Regions from separate parts of the Homo sapiens genome. Here region 1 is reported to be linked to region 2. The links are microRNA targets in miRTarBase. Many come from high-throughput screens and were not tested one by one. Region 2 holds a microRNA gene; the other region holds the end of a gene's coding sequence.

Region 1 (7,112 bases), not on the chromosome of region 2:
AGTTTTATTTTAAGAACAGCATCAGTATTTTCCCCTTGGGTGCTTAATAATCAACTCTGGAATGCCTTTAAGTGCCCTCTGCTGTTTCCCCTTAGCCCATGTGATTGTTACCACTGCTTTATAGACATTACTTTTTCCTGATTTGTAACACAGGGACACTGGAGTTGCTCTAACGGTTTGGGTGGTTAAGAAGGAGCTGTTAACGGCCTCAAGTCTGTTCTAATCCTGGGGATGCCCTACAGTGCTGAAGTTGAGACATTACAGTTTACCAGTTACTTTTACAGATAATCTCATTGAATCCTTACAACAGCCCTGTGAGATATTCTGTAGATAGGAAAACAGACCCAGTGGATGAATGACTTGCTCAGGGTTGCATAACAGTAAATTTAGACAGAGCTAGGATTTAGCTCTGTCTAGGACTTAGGATTCACATCTGGCTCCAAATCCTATCCTTTCTGCTGTAATACATTGCTTTTCTATAGCCGTTATGCTTTCTGGGCCTGATTCAGATTCTTGCTGGAGATTTGTGGCTGATCTCCATCTCCCTCTGATATTTCCATTTGACATTCAGACTCTGGAAGACCAGCGTATGTTCCTCAGTTCCTAACTAGATTGATTTTAGTTGTGTTTACTTGGGATGTCTTCTAGGAGATAAGATTTACAGAACTGCTCTTTTAGACTATTTGTAGATTTGTGCTTTTGGGAGAGTTTTGGTTTCATGTTGTCTTGATTGCTGTACTTTGGTAACTGAGTACTTAGCATTTAAAAGAAGTGAAGTTCTACCTAAAAGGTATATCTCATTTACACAGGTTAAGTCATGAACAATATGAAAGGAAGCAGAATTTGGTATTTAATACTCAAATATATAACCAAAAATAGTTTGGTGTATAATACTCAAATATATTTTAAAAAATTCAAATATTTGACTTTTTTTTTGGAGTGTCAAAGTATGACCCAAGTTTTTTTTTTTTTTAAAGGTATTTGAAATAAGAAATACCGAAGACCTAACTGAAGAATGGTTACGTGAGAAACTTGGATTTTTTCACTAATGTGAACTTCTGTGTTTCTAAAGTATTTATGTATTAACCTGACCATACTGGAATCAGACATAAATACTTATTTATGCCTAAAAATGCACTGTTACTTACAGTTTGTTTCCTGCAGTAAAGAAAAATTCTTCATTTGTGCAAAATTTGAACAAAGAGGAAATCATCTTCATAGTAATGAAACTTTGTAAAGTGTTTCCTTATATTGGTAATTGTTAGGTGGACTACTTTTCTCCAGGGACTTTTTGCACTCTTGTGACTAATTTCTATAACTTATGGTTCGGAATTTGTTACTATTTACAGACACCATTGGAAAGTGGATATATTAGATTGTGAGAGACAACAGTTGCCTCCTTTTGACAAATACTGGATATTAGCAGTTTATTTATGAAAATAGCGTATTATCACTTGTCAAATCATTGAAATTCATTTGGGGTCAAAGACTTGAGTGACCCAGTATTGAGCCATGAATAATTTAGTGTAACCTGTATTACAAGTACATTGATGAATTCTGTATCTTCTTTGGTTTCCTGTATCTTTTTAATCAAGTCTAGAAACTATGTTCATCAGTCACTCATTTTTAAGGTCGGGAGTTAGATTTTATGATAGAATTATGACTGTTAGCTTTTCTCCTTATAGCATCTTAGTCTTAGAAATTGGTGGGTTGTAATAATCAAGGGCTTCATTCCTTTTATGTCATTTCTAGACAGTTTTGAATCTAGGTTAATAACACTTTATTTATAAAGCACCTCAATGTCCTGTGAACACTAATTATTTTAAATGTGTTAATACTGTGCCTTTGATTTGTTAGCTTTAAAGTTAGTTTAAGACTTTTACACTGCCAGTATTCCACATTTGGTGAAATTAATACTTTTTTAAAGGGTCCAAATAAAATAATTTTCTAATGTGTATATCTGAAATTTGTAATAAAATCAACTTCATATTTTAAAAATTCCAACTATCTGCTTGCATTGGTGAATATATGGCAGTCGAGAGTTATAATTTTGGGTATACTTGTGGTTAGTTTTGTGCCATAGGAAAAAATTATCTTAAAACTTTGGCCATAGTTAATAACATTAACACTTCAATAGCAATCACATCTTATATCCTAAATGTCAGAAGATATTCTGAACTGGATGCCTGAATAGTTAACTAAACCAGTCTTGTTAGATGATGGTACTCTTGGCATAAAGCGAGGATTCTGATATTTGGCATACTTGTAAAAACAAATACATAAGTAACCATTGAACATTAATTTGATAATAGGTCTAGAGACTCTAAAAACTAACCAAACTTGGTGAGTGTATTCTTATATTAAGAATATCTTAGTCATCTCAAAACTAGCAAAATTTAAATTTTGGCATGTTTTCCATTCATATGTTCTTTGCATTTTATTTTTGAGGTTTCTGTGAGAAGTAAAGATAGTTGGAATTTTTGCGATATTGAATAGAACATCTTCTGTTCCCAACACTGTTTGGCTTCACTAATTTAGAAGTCAGGAAGCAATAGAAAGTTGGAGATGAGGAAGTGCTAGAGTAGGTGTTTGTTTTGGTTCTTGGAGGGAAAAGATTCTTTATTCCAATTTCCAGAGAGAAGAGAAAACTCACCCAGGAAGTTTAAAAATTCTTTAAACAGGTATTTTGATATTGGAGAATAACATGCATATAATTCTGTAGGAATGCACATGTAATCCAAGTGAGTGGAGAGTGTTTTTAATGTTTTTGAATGAAGGAAATGAGGTTTTGTTTCACCTGTTTTGCAGCAGTAAGAGAAACTAGTGCTGCAAGAATGTATTTTTTAATGAAGTTCCTTATTTTGTCTTGCATGTTTTAGTTTTGCTTATTTTTAAATTTGGAGGTCCTCCATAATGTCAGATAATATTGACCTGCCATACGTTAGCACTCTTAGTTCCGCTACTGTCTTTAACAGGAGCAAAGAGCTGTGATAAACCATGCTTTTTTGAGCTTGTCTGACTCCTAATTAATAACATGTTTTTGGCAAGACAACAGATTGAGGTTAGAGGATCAGTAGGACATTTTTATTCCATCTGTCCTATGGGGAAATTTACAAATCCCGTGCTCTAAAATGTTCTCAAACATTTATATAGATTTCCCTTTCATCTTACTAAATTTTGCATTGTTCTTTTCAAGTATGTTTCGTATTTACTGTCTTTTTTTCTGCCATTTCCCAAATAATAACTCCAGATTTCATAATTCCAGTTTTTACATTCCGTTATCTTTCTGGTACAACCATTCCCATTCAGCCTTAAATCTGAGTCCTTTTTAGCAGCAACTTTTTTCCTGGGATCCTCCTTCGTGGTCTTCTAAGTCAGTGTTAGTTTTGAAATTTTTGGCCCTGCATAAGTTCTGCATAGCATCTAATGTCAAAATAGAACCAACTGGTAATCACAGTATTATTTAGTGTGGTTTCCATGACAACAAAAATACATACGAAGAAAACTTCTCAGGTTACTATGCTGAAATTCCAAAATGTCTGAGTTTTGAATAGTGATCACTTTGTTCTGGTATTGACGCAATTATATTAGGAAAAAAGTTGGTTGACTGTTTTTGTTTAATTGACTTCTAAAATGTTCAAATTGTCTAGTTCTAAAAGTTTACTAAATGCCTAGTGCAGTTAAACATACTCTTGTTTAAGTGTGTGTTGCTAAATTTTTTACTGTCATTACTAAATAATCTGTGTGGCAAAATGTGTGTCAGCACTTTTCCCTCCTTTTTTATCTCCTATTTTCAGGAGTCAAATGTAGCCATAAACTGTATCCTTGTCTGACACTTTAGCTAAAAATTTCCAGTTAGGGGAGTTTATTGCCAAATTAAATTTGGCTGTTCCCCCCAACCCATATAGATATTAAGGAAGGTGTACTTAAAAAATGTTTGGACTGCTTTTAAAACCTGAGCAATGTCATTAATCCATATGTGGACTAGTGATGAATAGATATTTTCATAAGAGTTTAAATGCTGATATTTGGTGGAAGTAGAGAGTAACTCATATTCTATCAATTCAAGTATTCTTACTATGGTTGCTTTCCCTATTTGTTCAATAGACTGATAATACTGGAATTTATAGAGTTTGAGCCATTACAACTTTTGTGAGGATGTGTTTCAAACATTTCTGGACAAATCTTATTTTGTATTTCTGGAAGAATGTAGTAATCTTCTAGACCGCTTAAAACCAATGCTCCCAAGCTGAATATTCTTGAGAAATTTGTTTTTATTATGCCATTTGACATTTCAAATCAGTGCTCATATACAGTAAACTTGTGATAGAAATTGTATTTTATTGCTTTTTGGATTATAATTCATATAAATATAATTACTTGAATATTGTTTGAGATCATTAACATGCCAGGGCAGTTCCCACTGATTTAGATGGTCCAAGATAATCTCATTCAGGAGGCTTGAAACATTAATGGTTTAGTCTTGTGAATTTTAACAGTTCTCTGTCATCGTTTAACAAAACCAACAACTGACACAACTCCTTAAGCTGTGGTTTCAGTCTCTGCTAGTTCATATTGCATGTTTATTTTGGACAGTCTTTTGTTAAGCATGGTGCTTGTACTGGTTTAAATAAAATGTTAACATTAAAAGACTTCCAGCTTTTCTTTTTTTACTCACCTCTTTCCCCCTTTGGAGTTACTGGTATGTACCTGGCTAGATTTGTGTGAGCCATAAACTTTATCTGGACAAACTGAGAGGCAAAATAAACAAGTCATTTGGCAGCTTGGTGGAAGGAGAAGATAATCAAGTTATAAAAATTTCTAAAACTTGGTCTGATGCTAAAATGTAGAAAATGTCAGTAAACAGTAGTAGGGACAGACAGAGCTATTTCAAACAATGAACGCTTGCTTTCAAAGGGAGAATTCGAAGTTAGGAGAGCTGTATACTTCGTAAGAAATCAAATTGAAGGTTTTTTTAATTGAATATAGCTTATCACTATGTATTAAACACCCATTGACAACCCGTCCTACCTTTATTACCAACTGTACTATATGGTATATGTTCAATAGGTATCTACTGAATGAATACAAATCACTAATAACATAGTTTTTAGAGTTTGCCATGTACTTGTGATTGTGTATGTTGTAATAGTCACAATTTGTTATGATGGTGAAAGGAGTAGTTTATGCCTTCCTGTCTTTAAGAATTTCACAAGGAAAATTGGCCCAAGCATGGGAACATTTATATCTTCCTTATTTATCAAATTTGGCCACTTAACCTACTCAAACAGCCAGCTCTTAAATTTTTTCACCTTCACTAAATAATACCTATTGTCTTTTTGTCCTTTTCACTTTTCAGCAGCAAGAAGCATTTGTAAGCACTTAGCCTCTGAACCTGGGCGCACTCTTGTAACCACCCAATGGGTTCTCCTTGCCTGCTGCCCAGACAGAGCCAATTTATTAAGATAGGAGAACTGCAATAAAGAATTTTTAGGCCTGGCGCGGTGGCTCACGCCTGTAATCCTAGCACTTTGGGAGGCTGAGGCGGGTGGATCATGAGGTCAGGAGATCGAGACCATCTTGGCTAACACAGTGAAACCCCGTCTCTATTAAAAATACAAAAAATTAGCCGGGCATGGTGGCAGGCACCTGTAATCCAAGCTACTCGGGAGGCTGAGGCAGGAGAATGGCGTGAACCCGGGAGGCAGAGCTTGCAGTGAGCCAAGATAGTGCCACTGCACTCCAGCGAGACTCCGTCTCAAAAAAAAAGAATTTTTAATTCACACAGAGCTGGCTATATGGAAGACCTGAGTTTTATTACCCAAATCAGTATCCCCCAAAATTCTGGGATTGAAGTTTTTAAGGATAATTTGGTGGGTAGGGGGTTGGGAAGTGAGGAGTGCTGATTGGTTGGATCAGAGATGAAATTGTAGGGGGTCAAGTGGGTTTTTCTTGGTGTCTTCTGTTCCTAGGTGGGATCACAGAACTGGTTGAGCCAGATTACCAGCTCATCACAGGCTCGACCCTGTGGTGCTTCAGAACACAGGGTCTGCAGAATATCTCAAGCACTGATCTTATGTTTTACAACAGTGATTTTATCCCCAGGAACAATTTGGGGAGGTTCCAGAATCATGCAGCCTTGGCTGCGGTGACTCCTAAACTATAATTTCTAATCTTGTAGCTAATTTATTAGTCCCTACAAAGGCAGACTGGTCCCTAGGCAAGAAGGGAGGCTTGTTTCAGGAAAGGGCTGTTATCATCTTTCTTTCAAAGTTAAACTATAAACTAAATTCTTCCCAAAGTTAGTTCGGCCTATGCCCGGGAATAAACCAGGACAGCTTGGAGGTCAGAAGCAAGATGGAGTCGATTAGATCAGGACTCTCACTGTCCTAATTTTCTCATTGTTAGAATTTTTGCCAAGGCAGTTTTACACTCATTTGCATGAGGGTACACCCTGAGTGGATATTGTATCCTTGTATAGTGTAGTTTTAACTGTTGGGGAGCCAATTAAAGATGTTACTGCTGAGCACTAGGGAGTTTTCACAGATAATCCTCTTATCTTCTACTTGAGATCTACCCCTAGGCTGTGTGAAAGCTCCCTGCTGAGGTTGCTGCCCTCTTTTAATTATAGGAAGGAAAGAACGCCTTGGTTGCATATCCAAATGCCACCATGCAAATCAGACAAAGCAGGAGGAGAGAGTGTGACTTCCAAAGTCACTGTTACTAAGTATAGATTCTCTTACTCTGGAATTTAAGGCTCTTCACATTTCGGCCCATTTCTTACATGCACTGCACGGTTGTCTTAGTCCGTTTTGTGCTGCTGTAACAACACCTGACACTGGGTAATGTATAAAGAACAGAAGTTTATTTCTCATAGTTCTGGAGGCTGGAAAGTCTAAGATCAAGCTACTGGCATCTGGCAAGGGCTTTCTTGGTGCATCCTCACAAGAAAGGGGTGAACCCCCTCTTGAAAGTCCTTTCTGTGGCGGCATCAGTCCGGTCATGAAGGTTTTTCCCATAAAGCTCCATCGTCCAACACTGTTGCATGGGGGATTAAGTTTCCAACACATGAATTTTGGAGGACATCTTCAGACCATAGCAACAGCTAAGGC
Region 2 (7,125 bases):
TGGATCATTATAAGTAAGGCATGTTTTAAAGATCTTCTTATCAACAGCTTAAAAATTAGCCAGTATATACTGAACATCCACTGTATAAAAAGCACATTATGGGGTGCTCCAGTAGGTACAGCAGTGATCGAGACAGAATCATAGCCTTCAGGGAAGAGGTATATGCAATGTTCTCTCCTTCCAAAGATTACCTAGATAGAGAACTGTTCATAAGAAATATCTTGGTACTGTCTACATTACTCTTGAGATATAAAATATATATTATTTCTTACGTCTGAAATGAGTCAGTTGTTTCTAAAACAATTTGTATTAAAGTATTCACATTAAAAATTTGTAAAATACAGAAAAGTAGAGAGAAAAAATCATGAATTTTTAACATGGTAATGATTATATCAGTTTCGTTCTTGGCGTTTCTTTAACTTGATGGGATAGCTAATGTTTTTTGTCATTGCATAGCTTTGTAAACTTGTCCTAAGGATTATATAATTTCAGCATGAGTTAGTTTCTAAGTATGTCAGAAATCTAGCTTTTTTGTGGTAATTGTTGTTTTACACAAAATGATTAATAAAAGACTCTAAACTAACCTTGGCTTTAGAAATGCTTTTTAAATTTTAAAATAGTGAATGAGTAGCAGATTACTTTCTAGTATTTCTTTAAGGTCACCAAAATCACTTAACTTGCTTAAAATATTGATGGAAATATCAACTACGTACAGTTGACCTAAATTAGAAATGGGTGTTTTTTAAATAGTGAAATTTATAAATATAATATGTATATTTTAAAATACAGTTTATATTATAGAGTTATGTTCCTCTGTAATAATTTCTCTTTACACTGAATCATGTTCAGTTTTTATTATGCAGATAATTTAATCTTACAGCTTTGATCTTTTTTAAAAAATAAAACAGCCATTTGGAGTCTAAATTCAGCCATGTGATTATTACAATGAAATTCATCTTAAATCTACCTAATGTCCCTTTAGATATAAGACCTATTTCAATAGAAGGGCGTTTCTTGGTTAGGGTTGCTCTTCCCGAGAGGAGTCTCCTGGAGCAGGAGCCCCTGGGGAGGAGTGAACTGAGCCAGCAGGTGGTCTAAGGGAGGTGCCAGGGAACTGCTGACAGTGACTTGCCTGAAGGAAGGGAGGGAGCAGGATGGGAGTGGGGTGGAAAGTCCCTTATTAGCCTGGAGGCTGGGATGCCCTGACCCTCTGGAATCCCCCTCCCTTGTAAGAATGCCAGCCAAAGTAGGAAGGAGGAGCTCCAGCCAGATGGGGGTCCCAGTGCAGGAGGAAGATAGTAGGGTGACCACAACCAAAAAAGCTGTCTGACAGGCTTTGAGATCTCTTGTCTGAGGAACTCCGGCATAGATAGTAAGTCAGTATTCACTTAGAGGAGAGTTTGGCAAGTGAATATATATGATGAATGAATGAGTAACTGAATGAACTGCTTTATCACCAAAGGATCTGGATATTTGTTTCTACTCTCAAACATTTTTTGATTTGTTAACTTTTTATGCCCAATTTTAAAAGAAAATGCAATTTTCATTGAACTATGATTGACTACTTCATATTTATTGAAACCCACACCCTCCAGTACTCCACAAATGATTCAGAAAAGCTTACAATAAAAAAAATCAGAATAGAAAAGTGAGTAACGGATGTGATTTCAATTCTCCAAGCCTGTTGTCCTTATCTGTGATGGTAATGATTATAGATGCCTTATCTTGCTGTGGCAGGGATGAAATGAGATCATGTGCAGGCATTATTTGTCATACAACAAATACATAGTTGAGGTTGTATTAAAATTAAGGCTTTAAACTTGAGTACATACACTTTTGCTTAATTCTCAATTTATTTTTCATTACCATTTTATCAGAGAATGATATTTAAGCGATACTCATTTCTAGAGTAGAAGAGATTTTATTCCTTATAACTGTAAACTCTATACTATCCAAGATAATACTCTTCTTCCTAGAATTTGAATTCGTTAACAATCTTTCACATTTTCACAATCCATGGGAAATCACTCCCAGTAAATGCTTACAGCATTCGTCCACTTTCATGAGGCAAGGAGTAGGTAGGTCTGTATTTGTATTAATTACAAAGAAATTCAAGGGAAGGTTCATCATTATCATCGTTAGCAGGAAATATAATGAATTAGAAGCCCTTGAATTGGACTAAAAGAGTGTGGAGTATGTGTAAAAGAATGAATCAGAGAAGGTAAAGATTAATTTTAAAGGGCAGAATTTTGTTTGTACATTTAGGTCACTTCAATTTCAGATCAGTTCTATGTATGCTTTCTAGAAAAGATATCAAAGACCACCTAGATTTCTTGCCTTTAGGTGTGTTTTACCAAAGGAACAAGACAGAAGATGAATGCCAAAACTATTAATGCAGCTACCCTGGACACTAAGCCCCCAAAGAGATGGAGGATTGGAGGATGTAGAGCCTGGGCACTGGGTCCAGTGCTGACATGGAACATGTTCATTCTTAGAGTTTCACTGCAAACACTCCAAGGATAGAGAGCGAGAAGGTTATGTGGACATGAGAGGAGAAGGGTGGAAGAGGATTGAATGGTTCAGGGTAGCTAAAAAAAATTTTTACACTTTATCTCGGGCTGCTTCTAAACCCTCCACCAGAAAGAATTAATCCTGCAAGCACTTAAAACAAAACTGATGTGAGGAAGATAATAAAACCTGTCCAGGGTACAGACATCCAGATTTGCAATTTAGGGTGGGAAGACTTTAGAGACCTTGTCTAACAGGGCTAAAGAGTATCCTTATGGTTTTAAAGTAGGTACATTGTTTTTTGTAAGCATTTCTAGGGTTATATAAGACAAATCAGAGTCTGATGTATTGAACACAATTGGATCTTATTCTGCCATATTTGTTTTTAATTCACGATTTTTAAATGGATTTACTGGTCATATTTCTCAGGTCATGGCAAGATTTTTTAGTCTTAAACTTATTTAGCTCAGTCCTTCTAGATCAATGGTTCTCTGCCCTGAAGGTGTAGCAAAATTGTTTGATAGCTTTTGCAAAATTTACATACCCAGCAGCCTCCCCATCAGCTGAATAAGAATTGCAATGTGGATGTGGCAGAGGCAATCAGGTATGTGGGGTTAGAAGAAGCTGTCCTGGTCATTCTGTTGCCACCCTCTCACTTGGAGAATTGCTGATCCAATGAATTCCTTAACATAACTTTGAAAACACAGCGTTTTGCTCAGAACTTCATGAATAAACATCAAATTTTCACTAAACAAAATAATTAAAGACCATAAGATCTTAGTTATAATACTTCATAAATGGAAAAGCACTTTATTGCCTGTATGTATGTGGGCTCCTCTTTTAGCAAGATATGAGCTAGGTGAAGTCTATGTGAAAGCTAAAGCAGATTTATTCCAGTCAGATGCCAGACAATTTTACCAGTTTAACTGAGACTCATTATTACTTAAACTACATGCTTGTTTTTTTGGTTACTGAGTAGTATAGGTCCCACTTGGATCAGCAATTCTCAAAGTGAGAGGGTGGCAATAGAATTATTTAAGTAATTATTTGTTATTTGAGGTTGTTTGCTTAGTATTTACTTGTCACTGTTTTACATGTTATTTAATAATTTACAGTTATTTAAAAGTGGTAAGATTCCAAGGCAAGTAGGGGACCTGTCACTTTGAGAAAAATTTATGGTGGTAAAAATATTTTCTTTTTGTAAAGAGTCACTGATATACAATGTCCCCCCAGGGTGTAAGCCTTGGTATTTATCTATTTTAATTAAAGAGTACTCTGCCTGTCTAGTCGTGGCTAACTTAAAAGAAGTGGGTATCTTGGTGAGAAGTTCACAAGGTTGGTAGCCATAGCTGAGTTTGGTGGATTGACTCAAGCTCTAGTCAGCAGTGGTATATGAATGCCAAGTACTAAGAATTTCTGGAATGTAGAATTGCACAGCACTGATAAAGTTTGCTTTGTTCCCCTGTGTGACTTGACCCATTGAGAAAACTGGTTCCCTAGGAAGTTTTAATAGTTCAAAGTCCTTAGTTAATAAAGAAAAAGGCCACAACATAATTCAGCTTGTTTTCACCTGCTGACTCAAAGATTAACTTTTTTAACCTTAATGGGATAGAGTTACCCTTTGCTTTGAGAAAGTAATTTATGGAGTTCTTCATATTTGTTAGTTTCAGTAAACATGATGCTTTTTGTGTGGATTTTATTTTTGTTTCGGGTTTGAGATCACAAACTACTAAGACTTACACAATTTAAGAACCTTACGGTAACTTCATCTAAAAACAAATCTCAGGGAAAGGCACACCCACTTTTCTGTATCAACTTAATCTTTCACTAGATTCAGAATGGTTTTGAATTACTTCAGGAAAGTAGTGACTGATAGAGCTTAACCTTCAGTTTTCCTCATTTATTTTCATAAGAGAATGGGAGTGGAATTCAAAACATTCAAATTTGGAGTTAATGTGCGTCACTGTTGTGAGTGATAGGTTCTGTGTTTTTCCAGTGGGAAACTTTGATCCACATACTGATATATGCCTGTGTTATACCTCGTTATTCTTTTCTGTTTTTCTCCTGATTGTTGCTTACTCTTTCAAAAATCAGCTGACTGTACAAGTCCTCTCTGGGAGCAGACTTTAGAGCAAAAGTGATCTATAAAAGCAGCATGTAAGTCTTTTTTTTTTTTGTCAGAGTTTATAACTTTCCAAGTAGACCTTTTATATTTTCACGGTAGTCTAAGTTCACTCAACTGCAGTATTTGATGTTAAATGTACGCTTTACGCTGTTAAGATAATTTAGTTTCTGTGTTTGGTCACTTTTGCTTAAAGGATTGTAATTACATAATGCATGTTGAAATCATATTAAGTAACCTGGCCACTTGCCTATTTACTTCTTGTGGCTAACAATAATGAATGAAACCATTTATATATGTTGTTTTAGTATATCACAAAATTTTATAGAAACTAGAAGCTCGGTGATGAATAATAGACATCCATGAGCCTTCTTATTTGTTTTGAATTTGAGACATTTTCTAGAATATTGCTGTTTGAATGAGGCTTCAGTACTTTACAGAATCGTTGCCTGCACATCTTGGAAACACTTGCTGGGATTACTTCTTCAGGTTAACCCAACAGAAGGCTAAAGAAGGTATATTGCTGTTGACAGTGAGCGACTGTAAACATCCTCGACTGGAAGCTGTGAAGCCACAGATGGGCTTTCAGTCGGATGTTTGCAGCTGCCTACTGCCTCGGACTTCAAGGGGCTACTTTAGGAGCAATTATCTTGTTTACTAAAACTGAATACCTTGCTATCTCTTTGATACATTTTTACAAAGCTGAATTAAAATGGTATAAATTAAATCACTTTAAAACCATGTCTGTACATTTTTAGAGGGCTTCAGCAGGGCATTGAGGAGGTGCTCTGTGTATGCATAGAATTTGCAATATCAAAAAGAAAGTATTCGTAAGAGAAATGAGGAAATGTGTTACAGTATTTTTATTTTTTTTAAAAGCGTAGTAGGGCAATATTTCCCAGAAAAATCTATGAAGTGATTTGTTTTGTCCTGCCCTTTCTGCAGTTTCAAAATAGGTGTTTTTTAGACCCATTCACAAAAAAAAAATCCATTAATGAAACCACAATTATTTGGGGGAAAAAAGTAAGATGAAGGGTTAGTTATTTTCACATTACTTGGATTAAACCCCTTTTATTTCCTTATAGGCTTAGTGTTTAAGTAATAAAGTAGCAGCTCTCAGCTTAATAAAGTGTCTAAAACAAACAAATACTGATTCAACTAACTCTATTATTTGAAAAACCTATTCTTGTTTCAGATGATTAGAATAGTATTTTAGGAATTTGTGGATACTGTTTCCATTTGGTTGAACTTTTAACTTAGCTTTATGCAATAACTCATATCTCTTAAAAATAATAAATACATCAAATTCTATCCTAAATATATGAAGACAATTTTAAGATTCAGAATCCTGTAGAAGATTTCTGTGATGGACATAATTTCTAATTTTCCTTTTTTGTAAATGCGTATTTTTCTTATGGCGGATATTTTTAATATTATACACTTAAATAGAAATATTTAAGTGTATAAGAGAAATATTTAAGTGTATAATAGAAATATTAAGGATACACTTATATAGAAACTAGACACTTTAAAAAGATATGAAAGTGATATCTTTTGTCCTCTAAAACACAGTATTTTATAAATATATAGTGTTTCCATTAATGTAAAAGAGTTTCTTTTCCCTGTTTAATACCCATTGATGATGATGATAAAGAAGTGATACTAAAACAGTATGATCATACCACTATTTAAAATAGTAGCATTTCTTCTAATACCTGGGATGGAGAGAAATATGTGTTAGAAATGTCTTTAAGTTTCCCTCATACATAAAGCTATCAAAACTCTATTAGTCATGCTGGGCCATGAGAGGTTCATCAACTGCCACTGAAATGCAAGGGGCTTGGAGAGGCCTCTGCCAGGCCCTGGGTCTGGAACTGAGAATGTGGTCTATTTTAATTGGTAAGCTGAAAACCCCTGGAGCAAATAACTCGGCTGTTTTTCTGGGGTCACCCGACCGTATTTCCTAGGTAAATGACTATAGGTTTGAAGAAATGGTTAAACTTTTCCTAAATCTTTGACCTTCACTTTCTTTAGGTTCTCTTCCTATGTTATTTTATATCCTCTTCCTTACCTTACTGCCCCTAAATTTTCCATTTTTCATTTTTATCTGTTCATTTTGTTCATGTAAATAATTAGTTATGGGAACTTTTTAATTTGTAAAAATTACAGCATTTTTAATTATTTTTAAATCAACAAATACAAACCTCCATAAGCCATTCCGGGTAGTTTCAAAATTAATACCTAGTATTTCTTATGTCTTGTGCCCCACATTTCCACAGTAATAATGTAAACTACTATTTTAAAGTAACATCAACAGTCCAGGCACGGTGGCTTACGCCTGTAATCCCAGCACTTTAGGAGGCTGAGGCAGGTGGATCACTTGAGGTCAGGAGTTTGAGATCAATCTGAACAACATGGTGAAACCCTGTCTCCATTAAAAATACAAAAATTAGCTGGGTGTGGTGGCACGTGCCTGTAATCCCAGCTACTGAGGT

Evidence for each region. Region 2 holds the annotated microRNA hsa-miR-30a-5p (UGUAAACAUCCUCGACUGGAAG, at 5,172-5,193, shown strand). A microRNA usually pairs through its seed, bases 2 to 8, with sites in the 3' UTR of a target mRNA and lowers its output. Matches are read on the target gene's strand: a 7mer-m8 pairs with bases 2 to 8, a 7mer-A1 pairs with bases 2 to 7 and ends in A, and an 8mer does both.
Region 1: the mRNA of GMFB is a reported target of hsa-miR-30a-5p. The part of its 3' UTR that is shown has no 7-base or 8-base seed match.

Annotation. Positions count from the first base shown.
Region 1 is chr14:54,472,025-54,479,136 of GRCh38, reverse strand. It overlaps GMFB (glia maturation factor beta), which reads left to right. Exons shown (of 7, transcript NM_004124.3): 7 at 978-4,652. The coding sequence ends at 1,049. Among named protein-coding and RNA genes, the nearest start is that of GMFB, 13 kb to the left of the region's middle.
Region 2 is chr6:71,401,663-71,408,787 of GRCh38, reverse strand. It overlaps MIR30A (microRNA 30a), which reads left to right and starts at 5,167; the gene lies at 5,167-5,237. LINC00472 (long intergenic non-protein coding RNA 472) reads left to right here. Exons shown (of 3, transcript NR_121614.1): 3 at 1-924. RefSeq lists an enhancer at 6,171-6,699.